Linked DNA regions of Homo sapiens: regions 1 and 3 are each linked to region 2. Evidence: fine-mapped expression QTL. A gene starts in region 2. Each other region holds a variant in brackets. All regions are shown on one strand. Distances are between the middles of the regions.

Region 1 (7,587 bases), 27 kb after region 2:
GTGACAAATAACAAATACAGATTTTTGAGGCCTGGAGTTGGAGTGCTGCTGTAACAGAAACCTAAAATGTAATGGCTTTGGAACTAGGCAATATATGGAACATAAAATGGTGAAAACCTTGAAGAGCCTTTAGGTGTTTGTTACTAGAAACCTGATGGCATTTTAGGAAACTGCAGGTGAGGACTTAAAATGAAAGGGAGGTAAATTTTGCTGAATATTGGAGGAAAGGAAATCTTCCTTATGTAAAAACAAAGTTTAGCAAAACTAGTACCTGCAGTAACATGGAAAGTAGCAAACATACCAGATGAGCTACGTGATCTAGCTAAAAAGAATTTTCAGGCAAAGTATTGTGTGCCTCCTTGATTCTTCATTTTGCTTATAGTAAAATGTGAAAGGCGAGAATAAGCAAAAAATAGAACTGTTTTTAAAAAGTTGAGTGAGAGAAGCCAGAAATCACTGGATTTGAACATTCTCAGCCTCTCCAAATGACACAGAATGCTGAAATTAACAAATGGCTTCCAGACAAAAGTCAAATTTAAGGCACTTTGAGAAAAACCTGGTCTAACAGATGAAGCTGAGAGTGTGCCTGTAAAATCCTTTTAAAGATCTCAGAAGGATCCAAGGTGATACTTTAGATACTTTTAATCAGAGAATAAAGGTTATGTGACTCTTAGGTGTGCTGTCCCCAGCAGCATCAGTGGAAGCCCAGTGTAGAAAAGGGATCACTTCAATGAGATTTGTGGGTGTGGCTTTTGCTTAGTAGAGTAAATCCAAGAACTTTCACAGAATACCCACAAAGTTTTAAAGATACTTATATTGGTGGAAACACCACTAGCTTGGACTTAATGGGTCAGAAATAGCAAAAAGGAAAATAAGTCCTTGGATTTGGAAACATTTATAGGCATGAAATAGGCCAAGAAAATCATGCAACCAAAACCAATGATAGTGTTTCATGAAAAAGGAAGAATAACTCAAAGAAAAGAATCAAGAGCCCAGATGGTAGAGCCAAGAGATATGGAGAATTGTTCCTGTGCAGGATTAGCAGTGAATTCCGATCAAGGACTTTAAAAATTTGTCCAGGTGAATTTCAGATTTGCTGTGGACTTCCCCCATCCTTTTAAACAGGAGCATCTATAGCAGTTATCCTTTGCCTGTGCCACCATACTGTTTGACATGGGAGACACTAATAACTTGTCACTTTAGTTCATATGACTTCAGATTGAAAGGAACCATACTTGAGCTTTTATGAAAGAACTACACCCAAGAAGACTTACCCATATCTGGACCCAATATAAAGTTTTGTACTTTGAGCTCGTGCTGTAATGGATTAAAACTTTTGAGGGTGACTATTTTTTCATATGAGAGGGACATGAATAATTGGGTTAGAGAAGGTGGAATGTGGTAGCTACCCACCAAGATGACCTCCAGTGATTTTTGTTTCTTGGTATTAAACTCTTGGGTAGTCCCCTCTCATTCTGAATACAGCTGGCCTCTGTAACTCATACTTCTGAGACAATATAATAAAGGACAATGTGGCTTCCATCTTGTGTTCTTTTAGATCACTTGCTTTGGTAGAAATCAACTGCCATGCTAGGAGTATACTCAACCAGCCCAACGGAGAAGTCCATGTGACATTGCATTGAGACCACCTGCTAATAGTCAGCACTGAATCAGACACCCTAGAAGTGGATCTTCAACCTTAGTCAAGCCTTTAAATGACTGCAGTCTTAGCAAGCATCTTGACTGCTATCTCATGTGAGACTCTGTGTCAGAAACACCTAGCTAAGCTGCTTCTAGGTCCCTCCAACATAAATGCTATGAGATAATAAATGTATTTTTATTTTTTTAAGAGACGGAGTATATGTTGCCCAGGCTGGCCTTGAACTCCTAGGCTCAGCGATCTTCCTGCCCCAGCCTTCTGAGCAGCTGGGACTACAGGCATACATCACAGTGCCCAGCTTGATAATAAATGTTTATTGGTTTTACCTGCTAAGCTTTGAAGGTAATTTTTAAATGCAGCTATAAATAGCTAATAACATAATTTTTTTCCAAAACCGAGGGGGTTTTTCTCTGAAAAACAACATGAAGGATAAATATATGAAATGACATAAGAACCAAACTGCTAAAATCAAAGACAGGGAAATTTTTAAAAGCAAAATTCTGTTCATATAAAGATAAAAAACACATATTATCTTCAACAGAACAAAAATTGAATAGATAGCTGTGACTCCTCAAGAGAAACAATGAAAGTCAGAGGCACCATAAAGTTATCTTCAATGTGGTACAAGAGAATAACTGCCAACCTAGAATTCCATAACAAACGAAACTATCTTTCAGTAATGAAGGTGAAATAAGTACATTTCAAGAAAACACAAACAAAAAGCTTTATCACCAGCAAACCTACACTAAAAGATCAAGTGTTTCCCCCCTCACCCCCGCAAGCAGAAGAGAAAGGATCCCAGATGGAAGCTTGGAGTTGCAAGATATTAGGAAAGCATGTAGAAGTAAATCTGAATCAATTATGCAATTATGTCTATGTAAAGCAGTAATAACAATGTCTATTGGGGCTTATGATAGAGAGAAAATTAAAATTTGTGAACAATAGCACATAAAGTATGAAAGATGGGATTAAACTGAGTTAAAATGTTCTCTTCATTGACAAGAAAAAAGAAAAAGTACTGATGTACATTAGATATTAATAAGCCATGGGTAAATAATATAAACTATAATAAAGCACTTAAAGACAAGTAAAGAAGAGATTACTACAAAACTGATAAAAGGAATAATAAAACATCTAATCAATCCAAAAGAAGAAAAGAAAAGGAGAAAAATGATCGTGGAAGAGGTAGAAAAAACAAAAAAATAGATAGTAGATTTAAGTTCACATATATCCCTACCTAATTATATTAAGTATAAATGATCTGTATTGTCCAGCTAGGAGCAAACCGTTTTCTTAGGAAGAGAAACTATGATCTGCTGTTTGTAAGAGACAAACTGTAATGAAAGAAAAGCTTAAAGATAAAAGGTCATGTCATGTAAACACTAACTTAAAGAGACCTGGTATAGATATATATCACTCTCAGATAAAGTAAAATTCAAGAAAAAAATGTCTGACTAGAAATACAGCCCTATTTCATTAAGATAAAACTAATTTATCAGGAAGATATAATAATTTTAAAATTATATGTGCATAAATAACATTGTCTCAAAACACATAAAGCAAAATAACAGAACAACAAGGAAAAAGAGACACATCAACAATCATACTGGGAGTTTTAAAGATACTTCTCTCAGTAAGTGAAAAAATAAACAGACAAAAAATTTTTGAAAATCAATGAAGATATAGGAGTAAAAACAATGATTTAAATGCACCTAAGAGACATGCACAGAACACTATACCCATTACCATGGAATACACATTCTTTTCAAGAGCACGTGAAATATTTATAAATATTGACCATATCCAAGGCTATAAAACAAATCTCAATACAGTTCAAAGAATTGAAATTGTGGAATACATGTTTCCTGATCACAAGGGAACTGAGTTTGAGATCAATACAAAAACAACACACAGAAGTAAACAGTAGAAGAGGAAAAGGAAAGAAACACCATGTGTTTAGAAATTAAACCATACATATCAAAGTAGCCCATGTTAAAAAGAAATCACGATGGAAATTTAAAAATAGTTTGAATTCAATGTTAATTAAAATACTGCAAATCAAAAACTGTAGGATATAGCTAAAGTAGTGTTGGAGGGAAATTTATAACTTTGCATGTGTAAGAAAGGAGAATGACTGAAATCAGTTAGAGATTCCTGTCAAGAAACTAGGTACCAAGTAACAAATTAAACCAAAGGATATACAAAGAAGAAATAATATAAATAGCAGAAGTGAATAAAATAGAAAACAAATATTAAATATAGAAGATCAACTTACCCAAAAGCTTGGTTATTTAAAATGACTTAAAGAAAAAAAAAGAAAAAGAAATATCTCTGGGATAATGATTTTGAAAGACAGAGAAATCACAAATAATATCAGCAATGTATAAGGGGATATCAAAATATATCCTACAGATGGGAAAATGATTAAATTGTATTGTCAGTAAATTTGCCATTTAAGAAAAACTGGACAAAATCTAGGAAAATATAACAATAAAATAGACACAAGAAGAAATAGCTGGTCCTAGGATACGAGGGTTTTTTT[A/T]AAAAAAAAAAAAAAGAGAGAAGAAACAGCCAGAATAAATGTACACAAAATGTATTTGCAACTCAAGGATGTTACCGTTGACACACCATTGACACACACTTTGTTTTGAAGATTGCATTTTTTAAAAATCATCAAATATTACTTCATTTTTTACCTTTCATTTTAAATAAACTTTTATCCATTTTGGGGTAGTGCTTCAGTATTTTTAATGTGTTATTTTTAGTTATTGCTTTAAAAATTTTATTTGAGTGATAGGCATGTTTAAAAATGTGTTTTGCAGGCCGGGCGCGGTGGCTCACGCCTGTAATCCCAGCACTTTGGGAGGCCGAGGCGGGCGGATCACGAGGTCAGGAGATCGAGACCATCCCGGCTAAAACGGTGAAACCCCGTCTCTACTAAAAATACAAAAAATTAGCCGGGCGTAGTGGCGGGCGCCTGTAGTCCCAGCTACTTGGGAGGCTGAGGCAGGAGAATGGCGTGAACCCGGGAGGCGGAGCTTGCAGTGAGCCGAGATCGCGCCACTGCACTCCAGCCTGGGCGACAGAGCGAGACTCCGTCTCAAAAAAAAAAAAAAAAAAAAAAAAATGTGTTTTGCAATGCTGTTTTATATGTTTTCAAGTTATGTTTGAAATGTGCTTAATATTTAGCTTTTCTATTTTAAAACTTTTATTAATCTTGGAAATTTTAAAGAAAACACCCATCGTCACTAATATTTCAATACTATATGAAATAAGACACAACTCTTTCTATATTGTTATTTTGTCCTAGTTTTACAATCTCTAGTTTGCATGGTGTTGATTCTAGGAAAGGTGTTGAAAAAAAGTGTTCAAGTTTTGTAAATATTCCATTTATCTATTGTCAGCTTAAGTGCAGGAGTATATAAATTAGTTTAAGCTTACTGATTTTGTTGTTGAAATCTTCTATATCCTCACAAATTTTTTAATCTGCTTGCCCTATCAGTTTCTAAAAAAGGTGTATTAAAATCTTCCTCTATGATTGTAGATGTCTCAATTTTTTTCTTTTGTTAGATTTTACTTTATAAATTCCAATCTTATATTGTTAATTATAAGTTGAGGATTATGATACCTTATTCATTAATAGCTCCTTTTATTATTACTATGCAGTGACTATTTTCAATCCTTATTAAAGCTTTTGTCTTTAAATGATATTTTGGACTCATACTAGTATTTTTAACCTATTGTAACTGAACCAGACCAATTGGGTTCAACTTTTATGTAACGAGGTTGTGAATTGCTTTTCAGTTGCTATGGACCTCCCAGGTTCAAAGTCATGTAACCTGAGCATGCGCAGATGAACCAAGTGTGCAACCACTGGTGGAACCTAAATGCTCAGACCAAGGAACAGGGACTAAATTAAGAAGCAGACACCACTGACATCATGACCCCCAGCAGCAACTCATTGCAAGATCCAATCGGATCACCTCTCATTATCCTATACTTAAAAAAACCCGACCCAGGCTGGGCGCTGGGGACTCATGCCTGTAATCTCAGCACTTTGGGAAGCCGCGGTGGGTGCATCGCTGGAACCCTGGAGTTCTAGACCAGCCTGGACAATGTGGCGAAACCCGGCTCTACAAAAAAATACAAAAATTAGCGGGGCGTGGTGGCATGCTCCTGTAATCCCAGCTACTTGGGAGTGTCACTTCAGCCTGGGCGACAGAGCGAGACCCCGTCTGAAAAACAACAACAAAACAAAAAACAAAACAAAACAAAACAAAAACCTGGCCCAACCCCCAGCTTGGGGAAACAGGTTTGAGTGTTTCCTCCTCCCGTCTACTTGCCAGTCCAGTCACAATAACCCTTTCACGTTGCAAAAACCTGGTGCTTCCGTGTTTGGCTTTGTGTTGCACAGGCAAACTAGCCCGGTTTGGTTTGGTAACGCCGTTTTCCATTAGTTTAATATTTTCTTGGTGTATCTATCTAACTTTTACTTTCAAACTTTATAGTTTTTTTATTTTCTCTTGTAAGCAACACAGTGATGGAATTTGTTTTTGAGATATATTCTGAGGATCTATCTGTCTCAATAGGTAAGCTTACTGTGTTAAAATGATTGATGAACTTATGTTTATCATAATATTTACATTTACATTTTCTGTTTACCATCTTTTATCACTGTGTCTTTATTTTTTCCTTCCTTAGATTGGATTGAGAAACAAAATGTATTGCCTTTTGATTCCTCTCTTGGCTTAGAAGCTATAGAATACATTTCTGTTCTTTTAACAGGAACCCTTAATATTTGATGTACATAACTACATATAAATTTTTCTAACAATGTCTGTAATTACTCAATTTTTATTTTATTATTTTATTTTTTTTTTTGAGAGTGTCTCGCTCTGTTGCCCAGGCTGGAATACAGTGGCTTGATCTCGGCTCACTGCAACCTCTGCCTCCTGGGTTCAAGTGATTCTACCGCCTCAGCTTCCCAAGTAGCTGGGATTACAGGTGTGTGCCACCACGCCTGGCTAATTTTTGTATTTTCAGTAGAGACGGGGTTTCACCACATGGGCCAGGATGGTTGAACTCCTAACCTCAAGTAATCCACCCGCCTCGGCCTCCCTAAGTGCTGGGATTACAGGTGTGAGCCAACATGTGATTACCCAATATTTCTATCTTTCTTCTGAATACCACATGACTTTTATCCACTGAGCATCAAGACCAACTCTAAACCTTGTAATTGTTGCATAGCATTTTAGCTTCAACTTTTCTCGAAGATTAGAAAATGTTTTCTTGAAGAATCCATTAATTGTCTCACATATTTTGTAAGTTTCAGAACTCAACATTTCTGCTATATTTTATACTTTTCCTCTTGATTTACTTACCTTCTGGCTGAAGTTCATTATTTAATATTCCTTTGCAGAGAATATTTGGAGGTAAATTTACTTACTCTTTAAATGTGATGGCAAATATCTTTAAAATTGCCCTTATAACAATAGTTCAGCTAGCTTTGATATCCTATATACAGTCATCTTCTCTCACCACTTAAAAAAATTATGATGTTGTCTTATAATATTTATGAGGTATTGAAAAATTCTGTTTTTAGTCTAATTCTTTTGTATTTAATCTGTCTTTTCTTGCTGGTGACTTAAAAAAGAATTCTCTTTACTTTTTTTATTTTGGTAATTTTACTATGGTGTATCCAGGTATGTTTTTATTTATCCTACCCAGTGCTTGTAGCACATTTTCAAATGGGGATTCTTTTCTTTTTATGTTTTTTGTTACAATTTATTCTTTTTTTAATTTTTAATTTTTGTGGGAACATAGTACATGTATATATTTTGATACAGGCATGCAATTCATAATTACATCATGGAAATTGGGGTGTCCATCTCCTCAAGCATTTTCCTTTGTGTTACAACCAATCCAAT
Region 2 (7,587 bases):
GCTGATTATCTACAGAGAACAGTCTACAACTCTATAATTATTCCTGTGCCACCTTCCTGGTTCTAACCGAAAGTACAGACTATTAGACATCCATAATTACGGTTGGAATAATTTCTCCTGTTAACATTATTCTTACACTTGCCCACCCAAAAACTTGGAACACTTTTCTGCCCACTGACATAATTTCAATTATGACATAATTTCAATTGTAGTTTATTTTTATTGTTCATAACTCAGAAATATTCAATATTATTTGTATACTAGGAAAGATAGTATGCCTAATCACCTCCAGAATACTCACAAAAATTAAATAAGCTATCAAATCACATTTTTAAAACTTTTTTTACAATCAAGATTTCTAAAAATTAAATAATGTTCCTATACTTTGGCCACTTTAAAAATAAATCAGATTCTTTGTTGGAAAGTCTATAAGCCAGCATTTCAATTTTTACTATAACTCTTCGAGGAACAAAATATACCCCATACTTGATGACAATCAGCAATAATCAGCAGAAGAAAAGATATTTGGAAAGAAAGACAGTTTACAACAGTGAACTTCTGAATGCAAAAAATTTCAGTGCAAAATAGTTTTACACTATTAATACTATTGCAGTCATGTGCTACATAATGACATTTCACTGACGGTCCCATAAAGTTATAATATTTTTACTGTACCTTTTCTATGTCTAGACATGTTTACATATGCAAATACCATTGTGTTACAACCACCTATGGTATCCAGTACAGTAACATGCTATACAGGTTTGTAACCTAGGAGCAATACGCCATACCATACAGATATGTAGTAGCCCATACCATGTAGATTTATGTAAGTACACGCACAATAACAAAATCACCCAACACATTTCTCAGAATGTATCCCTGTCATTAAGCGATGCATGACTGTGTATTTTATGTCTAATTCAAGTCAAACACAATTTTTTAATATTGTATTTGTAATATGAAATGAAGACGTGGCAGGGCACAGTGGCTGATGCCTGTAATCCTAGAACTTTGGAAGCTGAGGCAGGCAGATGGCTTGAGCCCAGAAGTTCAAGACCAGCCTGGGAAATATGGTAAGACCCTGTCTCTACAAAAAAATTCAAAAATTAACTGGTGCGGTGGTGTGTGCCTGTAGTCCTAGCTACTTGGGAGGCTGAGGCGGGAGGATCACTTGAGCCTTGGAGGCAGAGGTTGCAGTGAGCCAAGATAGCGTCACTGCACTCCAGCATGAGCAACAGAGTGAGATTGTCTCAAACAAAGAAAAAAGAAATGAAGACTTGTTTACTTCATTGAGTAAATGATTACTGAACACTCACTATGTGCCAGGCATGTTCTCAATATGGGGGATTCACAGGTGATAAAGACAAACATAGTTTCTACTTTTCCATTATCATGAAGCCCAAATTTTTTAAAAATTTATTTTGCAGATGTCATCAAACGAAGTCTATGTGTTATCTTGAATCATTTACATTCAAAAATACTTAATCCTGCAATAAAATGTTAAAAAGTCACAGATGTTACAGAGTCAGGGTTGAAAAAGAGCTCATTAGTTCCAAGATGCACATTATTTTACATTTTGACATCTCTGAAATCAGTCACATCTTACAATGTAATCAGACTAGACGGCAATGGAGATGGAGTTGGCACTGCCGTGCATCAAAACTTCAAAACTCAGAATGAGCACTAGGGGCTTGGAAGAAAATCCCAGGTTTGATGGTAAAGGCACCATTTTAAGGAATTTTTTTTTTTTTTTTTGTGGTAGAGATGGGATATCGCTATGCTGACTGACCAGGCTGGTCTCAAACTCCTGGCCTCAAGCAATCCTCCCATCTGGGCCTCCCAAAGTGGTGGGATTACAGGCGTGAAGCACCACACCCAGCCTTAAGGATTTCTGATGATTCAAGATTCAATAAAACATAATAGTTCAAAGTTTTCATTTATTATAGGTGAGGAAAATGAAATTCAGAGTGGTCACACAACTTGCCCTAGTTTACAAAGCTGGACAGGTAGAATAGAGTCCAGGTCTGTTTTCTACAGTCATTCACTCTTCTACCAGTGTTCAGTTATATGGAGGAAAAGGGTGTCATACAAAACAAGTAGGTAAGAAGATGGCTCTAAGTTACAAAGACGGATTTGTAACTTAATCCGTCCTTGCCTCAGTTTCTCCATCTATTAAAACAGGGATTTAACAAACCTAACTCACAGTACTGCTGTAAGCATTAAATAAAATATGTCTAGCAATTATCACAAAGATTGGCATATGGTAAATACTCCATAAATGTCAACTACTTGAGATCAAACTTTACATTTATTATACACTAAGTCAAGCCCACATATAGTTGTCTAAAGCGCTTGAAAACTAAATAAACTGGTCAAGTGTTTGAAGTGATAAATACAATGAAAATTTCCACCTTAACAATGTTTTGTCCAGGTACTATGCCAAGAACCCAATAGACCTACCTGCAAGAAACCATACAAAAAGCAAGATTCCAGGCTGGCATGACGATCAAATTATGTACTTCAATGCGTGTGAATGCATTTATAAGCACAGTCTCAATACATAAATAAGGAACAAAATATTTAAAATGTATAAACAGATCATTTCTCTTTGCTTTCTTTAAAATACTATATCAGAATCACCTGAGGAACTTGATAACAATTTTTTTAAAAACTATTATAACTACGTATATTAAGCCTTGTTAAAACCACAAGTTTTAGAGGTTTAAGCCTTACTAGGTCAGCTCTTCTGATTTTGAGAGTTTAAGTGAAAATTTAAATTATAACACAGTATGTGGAGTAAACCTGCTTCAAATATTAGTTTCTACATTATTGTTTCTATAAAAATAGTAATCTTCTGTATTTTAATATCAACTCATCACATATTAAATATTTCAGTCAAATCAAAATTTCATTTGAAATCTTCAATCTAAAAAATACACAGTTAAGCGCTTAAAAAGTAATTTTAACCACTAGGAAATGTTAATGATTAACTCACATTTGTTTCTGTTTCACTCCATGACAAAGTCTATAGGACACCCTGCAGAGAGGAAAACTCACATTAATATACCCATAATTTTACTTTCAGAAGCTTCTGGTAATCAAAGACTTATTATGAGGTGTCTTCATGTTACCACTGCGCAGTAGCAAACTTAAAATATTCTAAAGATTAATCTATTTTCTCATTTTTTTAATGCTTTTGTTAAAATCTCAACAAGTACTAACATGTTATCTAAATTTAAACCTTAAAACAATAACACGACCCAATATGTGAACTCTGCCTATTAATTCTAAAACTTTTAATAATAGTTTGCTTATGTTTGAGACTTAAAACAATAACATACTGCACTACACCCATCTTAGATATTTTCTAGGATCAAAGTCTATCTGGAGCAGGGCAAGCTGTGGTTGAGGGTGGTTGGGTCAGCAGGTAAGAGCCTTATGACCAGCTCTAAACGCCTCCACGGTGAGGAGCACCTCGAGCTAACAGACCAAGCACCAAAGGGTGGAACAGCTCAAGGTTGCATTTAGGAGACTCCAGCCTCGGCCGCCCGTGACTCCTCGACGAGCCCCACCTCTCTCGGTTCCAGCATCCGGCCCGCCCCTTCCTCCCAGGCTACCACAGTATCGCCCGCCGAGCTCCCGGGCTGCGGGAAATGACGGAAACAAAAACTTGGTACACAAAGAAGGGCTAGGTCAGAAGTGAGGTCCCACCCTGGCAAGAAGGGCGACTTTTCTAGAAAAACTTAGCGGCAAGTTAACGGGAAGCGCGGCGACACAGTTCCTACGATTGTGGGGGGCACTCTGCCGCCAGGCAGTCTCATCCTTTGTCCTTTGAGAGGCCTCCTTGAAGCCGAAGGCTCTTAAGTGTCCCTGGGCAACCCTTGACTCGATCTCCATTACGGGCCCTCACTGACAGCAGCCATGACAGTTGCTTCCGGATATATTGAATCGCCGCGGCCAGAGTCTCCCGGAAGTGACGCAACGCGGAGGGATCCGCGTTCGGCAGTGGGAGACCGAAGCGAAGTGGTTCCCGGAAGCGGCTGCAGCTGGGCTGCTGGTGGCGGGGCGGGGGTAGAGTGGGGAGAGAGGTTGTGGGTCTTACAACCAACCAACCCCAACACGTTTTACGTGTTAGGCAGGCATTGTGCTGAACACCTCATTGGCAAGCCATTTAATCCCTTCCTTACAATCCCAGCAGTCAGAAATGTATCACTTACATTTTATATATGGGGAAACTAAGGTTAAGAGAGGGCAAGTAAATTTGTCCGAGATCGTATAGCTGGTACTTGGTGAACGTGGTCTAACCCAGACACCGCGTTCTCCCTGGTGACTCCATTTTGTAAAACCAGAGCTGTTGGCGCATGGCATCCTCGTAAGCCCCTTTAAGTTAGGCACTCTGTTGCCCAGAGAGGGGCCAACTTGTAGCCAGTATGCTCTTTATGGTGAACACAAGGCCCACGTGTGTGCCTGGGTCCCCTTGGCTGAACCTCGGATTTCAATTGGTTTCTGACACCTTGCCTTTGCAGCATTCTCCGTCTGCAGCGCTGGTTACCTGAGGAAACTGTCAATGATTGCTAGGCTCTGGGGAACATTTTAGCTCCGTTTAGGCCCTTTTAAATCCAGGACTAAGACAGTTGGAGGCCTCTCACCATCACCAGATACTCTAGCTGGCCTTAACAGAGGGCCAAGGACCATAATCTTGGACTTTCCACCAGACCAAGTGTTTGTTTGGCTTCTGTTTCTTTAGAATATGACTGAAAACCAATCTGTAGTTTGTTTAGTCTTCTTTCTGCATTGACCAGTACTCACATAATAAAGTGGGACTAGCCACTAAGGCTATGTTTTTGTAAAAACAAATTATGCCTAGAAAAACACAAGAAATACATCAAAATTAACAGTGATAGTGTTTGAATAGAGAGTGATTTTATTTTTTTCTCTCTGCTTTCTCTTTTGCATATCTGCTATAAAACCCTTTTAAAATAGAAAAATAAGCAAACTGGCTATGGTAAAAACATTTTTAATTGCCTGCTGTTATAATGACGGCAAAGGCATGTTGTCACATTTTGATAAATGACCGTCCTTGATACAAATCACGTAGAGAAATCCTGTTTGACTAGAAAAGCATTGGATTTTTGTGAGTCAGTGTATTCTCAAAATTTTCGATATTTTGTTTTGGTTCTATAATCCTCACAGGAAAAGTAAAAAAGCAAATTGATGTTTTTCACACACTTTCGTATGAGAGTATGCTACCACCAAAAGTCTTCCCTAAAACAAAGTTGCAGGGGTCAAGTCATGTGGGGCGTTTGGATACTTGAAATGGTGGAGAACAAATATAAAAAGCTATTTTTATTCTGGCTGCTTTGGGGTACAGTTTTAAGCAATTTATTTCAGACTGCCAAAGAAAGCTTCATTCTTTATTCACATACTCTACTTCCCACTATTGCTTATTAGTGACTTCTAAAGCAGTGACAAAACAAGTAAAAGAAGATAGAAAGGAAAAATGAGAAGGGATCACGGGAAGAAGAAAATGTGGAGGAACAAAGACAGATGGTGATATTGGGGTTACTTTGGAACTCCAGGGTAGCATGTAACAGCCTTCTTATCCAAGTCCTGGCACAGGCCTGGTTGCCTACTAAAAGGTAAATTAGCATCTATGATGTTCCTGCTCACATACTCAGCACCCACAGTGATAAGTCTTACTAAAAATTCATCTTGATGCGCATTCAAATTAGACATATATTTTAACAAAAATGGAGGGGTTGAACAACAAGAAATGTAAAGTAAAATCCCATCATTTTTCCTGTTTTTTTATCTTACCATGTCATTCATTCATCCTGTGGTTAGTAGTATAACTATAAACTGGAAGTTTTGCCTGCAGCATTATAAAGCAACAACTATGAAACGCCAAAGTGAGGTGCTGACAAGATGCATGTTTTCCAAAGAAATGTCTTTACATTAGTCTGGCTCTGATGAGAAGTTGTTATGATGGGATTAAATGTGCAACAATTTTATTAGAGGAAACACCTGTGAGAGAGAATGGGCGGGAGCCAAGCAAGACTGGGAGAGGCTGCAAGTCTGAAATTGAGTAAAGCAGAGAGAGAGGGAAGGGTGGTGGAAGTTTCCTGGACTGCCAAACAGTCTAAGCAAGATTTAGAAAGGCTATTGGAAATCCTCAAGCCAAAATCACCTGTCAGAGGAGTCCTTCTTTCAGGAGCCAGCCTGCCTTATTATCTGTGCTGCTCTCAGTCACCGGCTGGAGCAGCCCATGGGTGAAAATGTGGCCAGGGAATTCAGAGTGCAGCAAGCATCTAGAGCCCTTGATCAGTTTTGCTCCCTGTATTGGCAGCCACAGTCCAAGAACTGGTTTTGCCGCTATTGGAACCTTTCACCAGTTTCATGGGTTAAAAGAAGATGTTGAAAGAGATGAGTTTATGAGGAGAAGTTTTGGGGAGAGCCATTGTTATATGCTTCCCCAGTCACCTTCAAGTCTAGTGAAGGGGGCTTCAATAGCAATACTCAGAGAACTTGACATGCATTTCCTGGGTTTTGAGAGGTACAGTAGTATCGTGACTCACATCTGGGAAATCCCAGGGGTAGGAGAGATGGGCCAGTGAGAATTTTGGCATAGGAGTGAAGGAAAGTTGCTATGTTGGGATCTGTAGTCACTGCCGTAGTTTGTCAAGGCAAATGATGCCTGAGTGTTTCTCGTGCAGCAGATGTGGGCCACGTGAAAAAAAGAGAAAGTTGGCCTGAGACCTTTTTGACTCTTGTGTATGGAGAGAATCTGTATGGTATGGATTGTTAGAGAAGCCATAGCTGTAGATGGAGCAATAGCTGGAGGAACAGAATGTATTGCCTATCTAGAGTGACCAACTTGTCCAGTGCCCTTGGACTTTCCCTGCTTTAGTACCAAAAGTCCCAAGTCCCAGGAATCCATGTTTGATCATTCTGTGTGTCATAGGAGTTGCAGCATCCAACGAACCTAAAAATCACCCGTGAGAGTGAGCCAAGTTTAAGTTTCAAGCAGGTCTAGAGTGTAAAACCAGCTTATGACCATGCCGGGATTAAAGTAGATTTTAGCAGAGGACAATTTGAAAATGACGCTGAAACAAAAATTTCTACACACTCTTTTTTTGGAGTGTGTATTAGTCTGTTGACACAGCCAAAATACCATAGACTGAGTGGCTTACACACAGAGATTTATTTTCTCACTGTCCTGGAAGCTCAAAGTTCAAAACCAGGGTTTTGACCAATTTGCTTTCTGGTGAGGGGCATTCTTCCTGGGTTGCAGCTGGCTGCCTTCTCACAATATCCTCATATGGCCTTTCCTCGGTACATACTCGAGATGAAGAGGCGTGGAAGAGAAAGAGAGAGAACTTTCTGGTGTATCTTCTTATAAGACACTAATTCTGTCAGATCAGGGACCCACCCTTATGACCTCATTTCATCTTAATTACTTCCTTAGAGGCCCCATCTCCAGATATAGCCACAGCGGGGGTTAGGGCTTTACCATATGAATTTGACGGGCACACAAACGTTCAATCCATCACAGAGTGTGACTCTGCAACACAGAGATACCTTTTT
Region 3 (7,587 bases), 110 kb before region 2:
TTGCTTCAAGTCCAGATGAAGCAGAAAAATAAGCTTATGGAGACCCGGGACAAAAGACTCAGGACTCAAAAAATTTAGGGAACACTGTGCACTCAGCAAAAGTTTTAAGAAGTATTGTTAAACTCTTTGGAGATTAGATGCAGAAGACTTGGGAATGTAAGGAAAGAGGAGAAAGAACAGCTTGCTGGCCTCTTTTTCTGCTGCCAATGGTCCTTTCTTGCTGGAAGCCACTCCCACAGAGAATGGTTAAGAAGCCTCCAGGCATGAAAGGAAGAAAATCATGATATTCATCTCTACATATTCATCTCAATCTTTACCTTCTCTTTTGTAGTCCTTGAAGGATCTTAGAGAGGAGATGAGGGAGAGCACTAAGATAAGAGTGGAGTTAGGGCCGGGCGTGGTGGCTCACACCTGTAATCCTAGCACTTTGGGAGGCCCAGGCAGGTGGATCACCTCAGGTCAGGAGTTCGAGACCAGCCTGGCCAACATGGTAAAACCCCATCTCTACTAAAAAATACAAAAAATTAGCCAGGCATGGTGGTTGACACCTGTAATCCCAGCTACTTGGGAGCCTGAGGCAGGAGAATCATTTGAACCCAGGAGGTGGAGGTTGCAGGGAGCTGAGATTGCCCCACTTTACTCCAGCCTGGGCATCAAGAGCAAAACTCTGTCTCAAAAAAAAAAAAAAAAAAAGAGTGGGGTTAGCACAGATCTTCCTTTGTGTTCCTAGAGTTCCACAAGTAAAACTCAGGAAAAAACCCACAATGTGCTTCAACTGCACTTAAAACAATTCATATGTTTTTAATGCCTTTTATAAACAGATGTGCCTTTTCTTCTTGAGGGAAATGGAACTGAAGAACTCTGTCTTTTGACATCAGGAAAACTTAGCTATTCTCTATCATGGAGCTTAGATGAAAATGGTCTTCCTCTGATACCTATGCCACAATCATTAAGATCTTCTTACTGCAGGTAATAAACTTTTATCTTTGAAAAATAATGCCAGGTCTCAGCAAAGCATCACACAAAACATATTATGTGTAAAAGAGAAAACTTGAGCAGCAATAGGAAGAGTTTAGTCTATTTGAATGTTGATTTATCTTTTATTTAAATCACTCTACTAAGGCAGTATGTGTATTTATATGTAAGAGAATGTGTCCCTTCAGTGCTTGGAATTATAGCCACACAGATGATGAGAGAGGCATTCCCAGAGTCCCTCACTTGTAGGCAAAGGTCAAGACTCCCAGGGACTTTATTTCTGGGGCCTGTATATCTCCCAGTCATTCTGGATTAGCAAAGAATCATTTATGCATTATCATCATTCTGGGAGTTCCCAGAAGGGTTGGGGTTAATTTTCAGATTAATTATTTGTGGGATTACTAGAAATAAGTACAGTAAATTCTATGAAAATGATGATAATGCTGGCTTCCATAATGTGCTATGTTTGAGGGAAATGGTAAATATAAAGGAAAAAGTTTATTTCATCATTTAAAATAATGAACAATGATAACAAAAAGATATCCTCTCCCCTCCACATCTTAACACATATTTTTAAAAATAAACGGAAATGAAAAGCTTCATATAACTTATGGCATTCTAGAAAGGGCAAAACTGTGGAGACAGTAGAAAGATCAGTGGTTGCCAGAGGTTCTAGGGGGAGATAAGAATGAATAGTTGGAGCACACGGGATTTTTAGAGTAGTGAAACTATTTTGCATAACATTATAATGGTGGATACATGTCATTACACAGTTGTCAAAACCTACAGAATTTACAAGACCAAGGGTGAACCCTAATGTAAACTATGGACTTTGAGTGACAATGATGTGTCAATGTAGGTTCATGGATTGTAAAAAAAGGTACCACTCCAGCGAGGGATGTTAACAGCTGGGGAGGCTGTGCATGTTTATGGGGATGGGGTACATGGGAACTCTCTGTGCCTTTTGTTCAATTTTGCTGCAAATCTAAAACTTCTCTAAAAAATTATGTTTTAAAAATATTATAGTTTTGAAAATTGTTATACATAACTGGATTAAATGGAAAATCAAAACTGAAATTAGAGACTGTTTAAAAAAGAACAGGGAGAACATTATATATAAAAACCAGTAGCATATGGCCAGAGTCATAGTAAGAGTTCATAAATGCTTTTCTTCGGTACATAAGAAACAAAGAGAAAAAAGCTAAATGGCAGTAGCACAAGGAGATCGTTGGTATGGACGAAACTGACATAGTGGGGGTAGTTTACTTACCAAGGAGTTTGACAATAAAAAAATGCTAAAAAATAACAGAAGACAAAAGAATCAAGGTACAGATTTCTTAAAAATTGGGGCCATATTTATCTTCTTAAAAGAAGTGATTAAAAGTGATGAGCTTACAAAAGATTGAAATCAGTGGGGAAAAAGACCCAATATATTGGAAAGAGTATAAGGTCCTTCAGAGTCAGGAAGGTATCAAACCAGAACCCAAGTGAATAACTGTGGTTCTGGAGAAGAGAAACTCTCTCTTCCTCAACTCAGGGAATGGGACAGTCATCACTATGAAAACAGAAATGGAACTTTGATGGATGTCCTTGTTTTGCTAAGTAAATGAGGTCATCTTCTTAGAGACCTGGAGAAGGTCATTTTAAGAGCAAATCTTACAGTTATTAAAGGTAATTCATTTTGGAGCCAGTGGAAAAGTGTTTAATACCTAGAACTATTATTTTGTTATATTTCTTAATATTTCTCTAGCATAGTCTCCACAGCAGCTATTCCTAATCTTTGCCTCATCATAATATTGTTTGCATTTTTCTTGGAGTGAGATGTTTGTCCTCCTCACTCTGAGGCTAACTTTTATGCAGGTAATTTGCAACTCTCTTTTACAATTCTACAGACGCATTTATATCTTTTTCTTCCATTCAACTTGTCCATCTCCCTAGGCTGTTGGTCTTTTGTACCCAAAAGCCTTCTTTGTTTTAAAACAAACAAGCAAAAACTCAAGCACCTGATTAAATCCTGAAGCCCATTTTGGCTAGATTTTTCCTGCCAGAGTTCTCCTATGTGTGGCCTACTGGTCTGCATACATTCCCTCCACTTTCTGCTCACCCATTCCCTTCCTAATCCTACCCACTTGTCACTGAAGGTTACCAGCAAGTGACCTTCAAGCCATATTCATTGGCTTGTCTCCGTTGTCTTACAATTCCTATTACTTGGAAACTCAAGCTTACAAAAG[A/G]TTGAAAACAGTTACATGCAAGAGTGGGACAGATGACAGGTTTCAGCAGGAAGTAAATTGCAAAAGAGGTTTTCAAAGTCCAGGGCCCTCTCTAAGTCAAACTTTACAATTAGAGGAAGTTACAGAACTTTCCCACAGTTTTGTTGTGGCAGCTCAAGGACTGGCTCTGAGCAGTAGGTTCTAGGAATTGGGATGGGTGCTCCAGAGGGCAGGACTGACTTGTGGAAGTCAGAGAATGAAGCCAAAGGAGAACTGAAAGGCAGTTTTGTTACTCATTCATTCACTTACTCATTCATCAAACACTGACTGAACTGTAGATAAAGTAGTGAACCGAAAGAGAGTCTCAGAAAGCTTTGATGCTTTTTTTTGTTTAAGACAGAGCTTCGCTCTTGTTGCCCAGGCTGGAGTGCAATGGTGCAATCTCGGCTCACTGCAACCTCTGCCTCCCTGGTTCAAGCAGTTCTCCTGCCTCAGCCTCCAGAGTAGCTGGGATTACAGGCATGCGCTACCAAGCTCAGCTAATTTTTGGTATTTTTAGTAGAGACGGGGTCTCTCCATGTTGGTCAGGCTAGTGTCAAACTGCTGAACTCAGGTGATCCGCCTGGCTCCACCTCCCAAAGTGTTGGGATTACAGGCATGAGCCACCGCACCCAGCCCAGCTTTAGTGCTTTAATACCACATTAAACACACCTCTCCAGCTGGGCGTGGTGGCTCACCGTGTAATCCCAGCACTTTGGAGGCCAAGGTGGGCAGATCACCTGAAGTCAGGAGTTTGAGACCAGCCTGGCCAACATGGTGGAGTGGAACCCCATCTCTACTAAAAATACAAAAATTAGCTGGACATGGTGGCACACGCATGTAGTCCCAGCTACCCAGGAGGCTGAGGCAGGAGAATCGCTTGAACCTGGGAAGCGGTGATTGCAGTGAGCCAAGATCATGCCATTGCACTCCAGCCTGGTGACAGAGTGAGACTCTGTCTCAATAAACAAACAAATCAGAAAACCAAAAACAAACAAACAAAAAAAACACCACACCTCTCTAACCTAAATGATCGTTGTCTAGAGTTTTCATTTTTAAACATGAAACAGTTTTTCTTACACACACTAGTTAATGAAATTTTTAACATAGTTCATTGACTTTTATGTTTACCTTATTTCTTATTTCCCATCCTTCATTCTCGATTTACTTTTCATGCTGAAAGCATGCTCCTTTAATGATTCTTTCAGTTAGTTTCTATGGATAGCAAAATTCTTTAGCCTTTCTAGATCTAAAAGTGTCTTTATTTTGCCCTCATTCTTAATAGTTTAGGTGAGTAGAAAATTTGAGGATGTTATTTATTTCCCTTTAGCACTTTGAAGCTGTTACAGTACTGCATTATCTTGTGGGATTTATCATTGCTATTTATAAGTCTGCTATTGGTCTAAATGTTGGGCTTTTATAGGCTATCTTTTCTCTCTGATAATATTGAAATATTTCACTTTAATTCAGAGACAGAAAGTGGAATAAAGGTTACCAGGGATGGGGAAGGGAGAAATGAGGAGTTATTTTTTAATGTGTACAGAGTTTCAGTTTGGGATGAAGAAAAAAATTCTGGAAATAGGTAATGATGATGGTTATACAGTACCGTGAGTATACGTAATACTACTGAATCATACACTTTAAAATGGTGGTAAATTTTATATTATGTATCTTTAACCTTAATAAAAAAGGAAGAAACTGCCATTTGAGCCATGAAAAAAATTTTGCTTTATCCTTAAAGTACTGAAATTTTACTATACTGTATATGTGTGGATTTATCATTATTCTTCTTCCTGCTTAGCAGAATAAATTTCATGTTTAAAGCCTCACATCTTTCATCAATTACAGAAACTTCTCAGCCACTATTTCTTCAAATATTACTTCTTCCCCATTCCCACTCTTCTCTCCTTCAGGATTTCTTATTGAATTTGTATTGGAGCCTCTTGGTCTATTATTCATTTATTTATTTTTGAGACAGGGTCTCACTCTGTCACTCAGGCTGGAATGTAGTGGTGTAATCATAGCAGCCTCAAACTCCAGGGCTCAACAACTCTCCTGCCTCAGCCTCCCGAGTAGCTGAGACTGTAGGCAGGTGCCACCACATCCAGCTAATTTTTTTCTTGCTTTCTTTGTTTTCTTTTTAAGAGATGAGGAGGTCTTGCTATGTTGCCCAGGCTGATAAACTCCTGGGCTCAAGTGATCCTTTCACCTTGGCCTCACAAAGTGCTAGGATTACAGGCCTAAGCCACTGAGCCCAGCCAAGCCTCAGCCTATTAGCCACATCTCTTACCTATTATTTCACATTTTTATGTTTTTATTTCATCTGCATCCTGGGTGAATTTCTGCGTACTATTTTTTAGTTCCTTAATTCATTATTCAACTTTGTCCAGTATAAGGTTTATTTGATTTTTATGTTATAATTTTTACTTTTATTTTCTGCTGCCAAGTTTTCTGTTTGATTCTCTTTCATATCTACATTTTCTTATTTCATTTTGGCATTTTGTTCCATTATTTCTTGCATTTAAAAGTGAATTATTAGTTTTCATTTGCTTTTACATCGTAAGCATACTTCATTAAAATGTGTTTGGCAGACTTTCATAAAATGAATTTCAACTAGAATTAATTTATGTTCTGATAGTTGATAACTGTTGATTATTTTTCTGAGCATGGCTTCTTTGCTCAGAAGTTTTGGTTAGCAGTGTCATTTTGACTTGAAGAACTTTTGGGTGATTTTGATTTATACGTTTCTGGGTTTTTGGTGTTTTTTTTTTTTTTTCCTCTCTCTCCTTCTGTATCTACCCCTCCTTACCTAATGGTTCTGAATTTGACTTCATCTGTCCTCCTAAATCCAGAAGTGGGCTGTAAGCCTACTTACTGGATAGGTTGGGAGATTGGGTTGTTATACTGGGTTGCTACTGGAGTCATCACAGATCTAGGTATCTGGTGAGCTGTGAGCCTGGTTCAGTTCCTCATTATGGGGCAGTGTCTGTGTCCTTTTCCCTCTCTAGACTCATAGCTTTCTAAAAGCCATGGCCCCATGCAGTGGTCAGTATTTTTTTAAAGGTCTCTTTATCTAAGTAAAGTTCCCCCCAGATCTTTGGCTTAAAATGATAAGCCTGGTGCTAGTTCCCTGTCTCAGGAACTGAGCCCACAACCACCATGGACTGCTCCTAGGCCTGAAGCCCAGCAAGCCCACAGTGCTATCCCCACTCACCACTCTGCCTTTCTTTTCCATTTCTGGTTCACAGGAATGTTTATCTTAGCTCTCAGCACAGTTATATTTTTAACTATTTTTTAACATCTTTATTGAGATACAACTCACAAACCATAAAATTCAGCCAATTAAAACATGCAATGCAATGGTTTTAATATATTCACAGGCTTGTACAACCATCATTACAATCTGGAAATGGATGGTGGTGATGGTTGCACAACATTGTGAGTGTACTTAATGCCACTGAATTGTGTATTTTAAAATAAAGTGGTAAATGTTATGTATATTTTACCTCAATTTACAAATGTGGTGGCTGTGGCCTTGCATTTGGGTGTATAAGCCAAGGTCTTGGGGCCTGCTAGAATTAAAGCTCGCCTCTTTCTTGGGGCCATGCTATACTTTGATTCTTTTGTCAGAAACAAGATGTAAATGTCAGGGCTGCATTAGATAGACAACAACCAAAGAGTTTCCCATGCCTTTTATAAAGTACTGCTTCCAGCTCTCCATCACCAAAGTAGAAATCTTCAATCGAAAAGAAGAGGGAGGGAGGAGGAAGGAAGGAAGGAAGAGAGGAAGGGAGGGAGGGAGGGAAGGAGGGAGGGAAAAATCTTCAATCATTTGACTGGTTTTGACCCAAGAACAGCACTGCTGTGAGCCATAGCCTACAGCTAAACGTGTATAGGAGCAGCTGGGGGAATCATTGTAGCAAGGCTCTGAGATTTGTATTACTTTCTCTGAGGCAGAAACCATGGGACTATGTTGAAATTCAATTACAACTTTCTTTGTTGTTTGTTGTTGTTGTTGTTGTTGTTGTTAAAGGATATAACGGGAAAAGTTTCTAATCTATTCGTTAAGATTTAAGCTTTACCTGAGGCTGTCTTCTAGGTGATCTGGGCTAAGACTGTTTCAAGAAGGAAAATTTATTACATGATGGTGTAAAGGGTGTCAGGTCCTAGCGATCTCTTATGACATAGATATCAAAACAGTTCAAAATGAGGGCAGACATGGGAAGCAAAAGAAAAGAAGAATATGCAAACTTCACCTGTTCGTAATTTTCCTTACATCTTACCATACCACACATTGGCTTTTGCAGCAATAGCCTCAGAAGAATCATCAAAGAAATATGAACAAATGGGAAGGAGACAGTAT

Evidence for each region. PIP is the estimated chance that this variant, and not a neighbour inherited with it, causes the effect. A credible set is the group of variants that fine-mapping cannot tell apart.
Region 1: its variant is the best candidate, but not a certain one, in a credible set for the expression of ENTPD1-AS1 in whole blood (INTERVAL, PIP 0.64).
Region 3: its variant is the best candidate, but not a certain one, in a credible set for the expression of ENTPD1-AS1 in whole blood (INTERVAL, PIP 0.86).

The regions. Positions count from the first base shown.
Region 1 is chr10:96,113,239-96,120,825 of GRCh38, forward strand. No RefSeq gene overlaps it. Among named protein-coding and RNA genes, the nearest start is that of ZNF518A, 13 kb to the right of the region's middle. The variant A/T (reference allele first, on the strand shown) is at 4,203.
Region 2 is chr10:96,086,268-96,093,854 of GRCh38, forward strand. ENTPD1-AS1 (ENTPD1 antisense RNA 1) reads right to left here and starts at 3,968. Exons shown (of 6, transcript NR_038444.1): 1 at 3,715-3,968; 2 at 2,999-3,040. RefSeq lists enhancers at 3,688-4,057, 4,068-4,117.
Region 3 is chr10:95,973,188-95,980,774 of GRCh38, forward strand. CC2D2B (coiled-coil and C2 domain containing 2B) reads left to right here. Exons shown (of 35, transcript NM_001349008.3): 17 at 822-969. All of the region lies in intron 2 of ENTPD1-AS1 (ENTPD1 antisense RNA 1), which reads right to left. Among named protein-coding and RNA genes, the nearest start is that of CCNJ, 67 kb to the right of the region's middle. The variant A/G (reference allele first, on the strand shown) is at 3,207.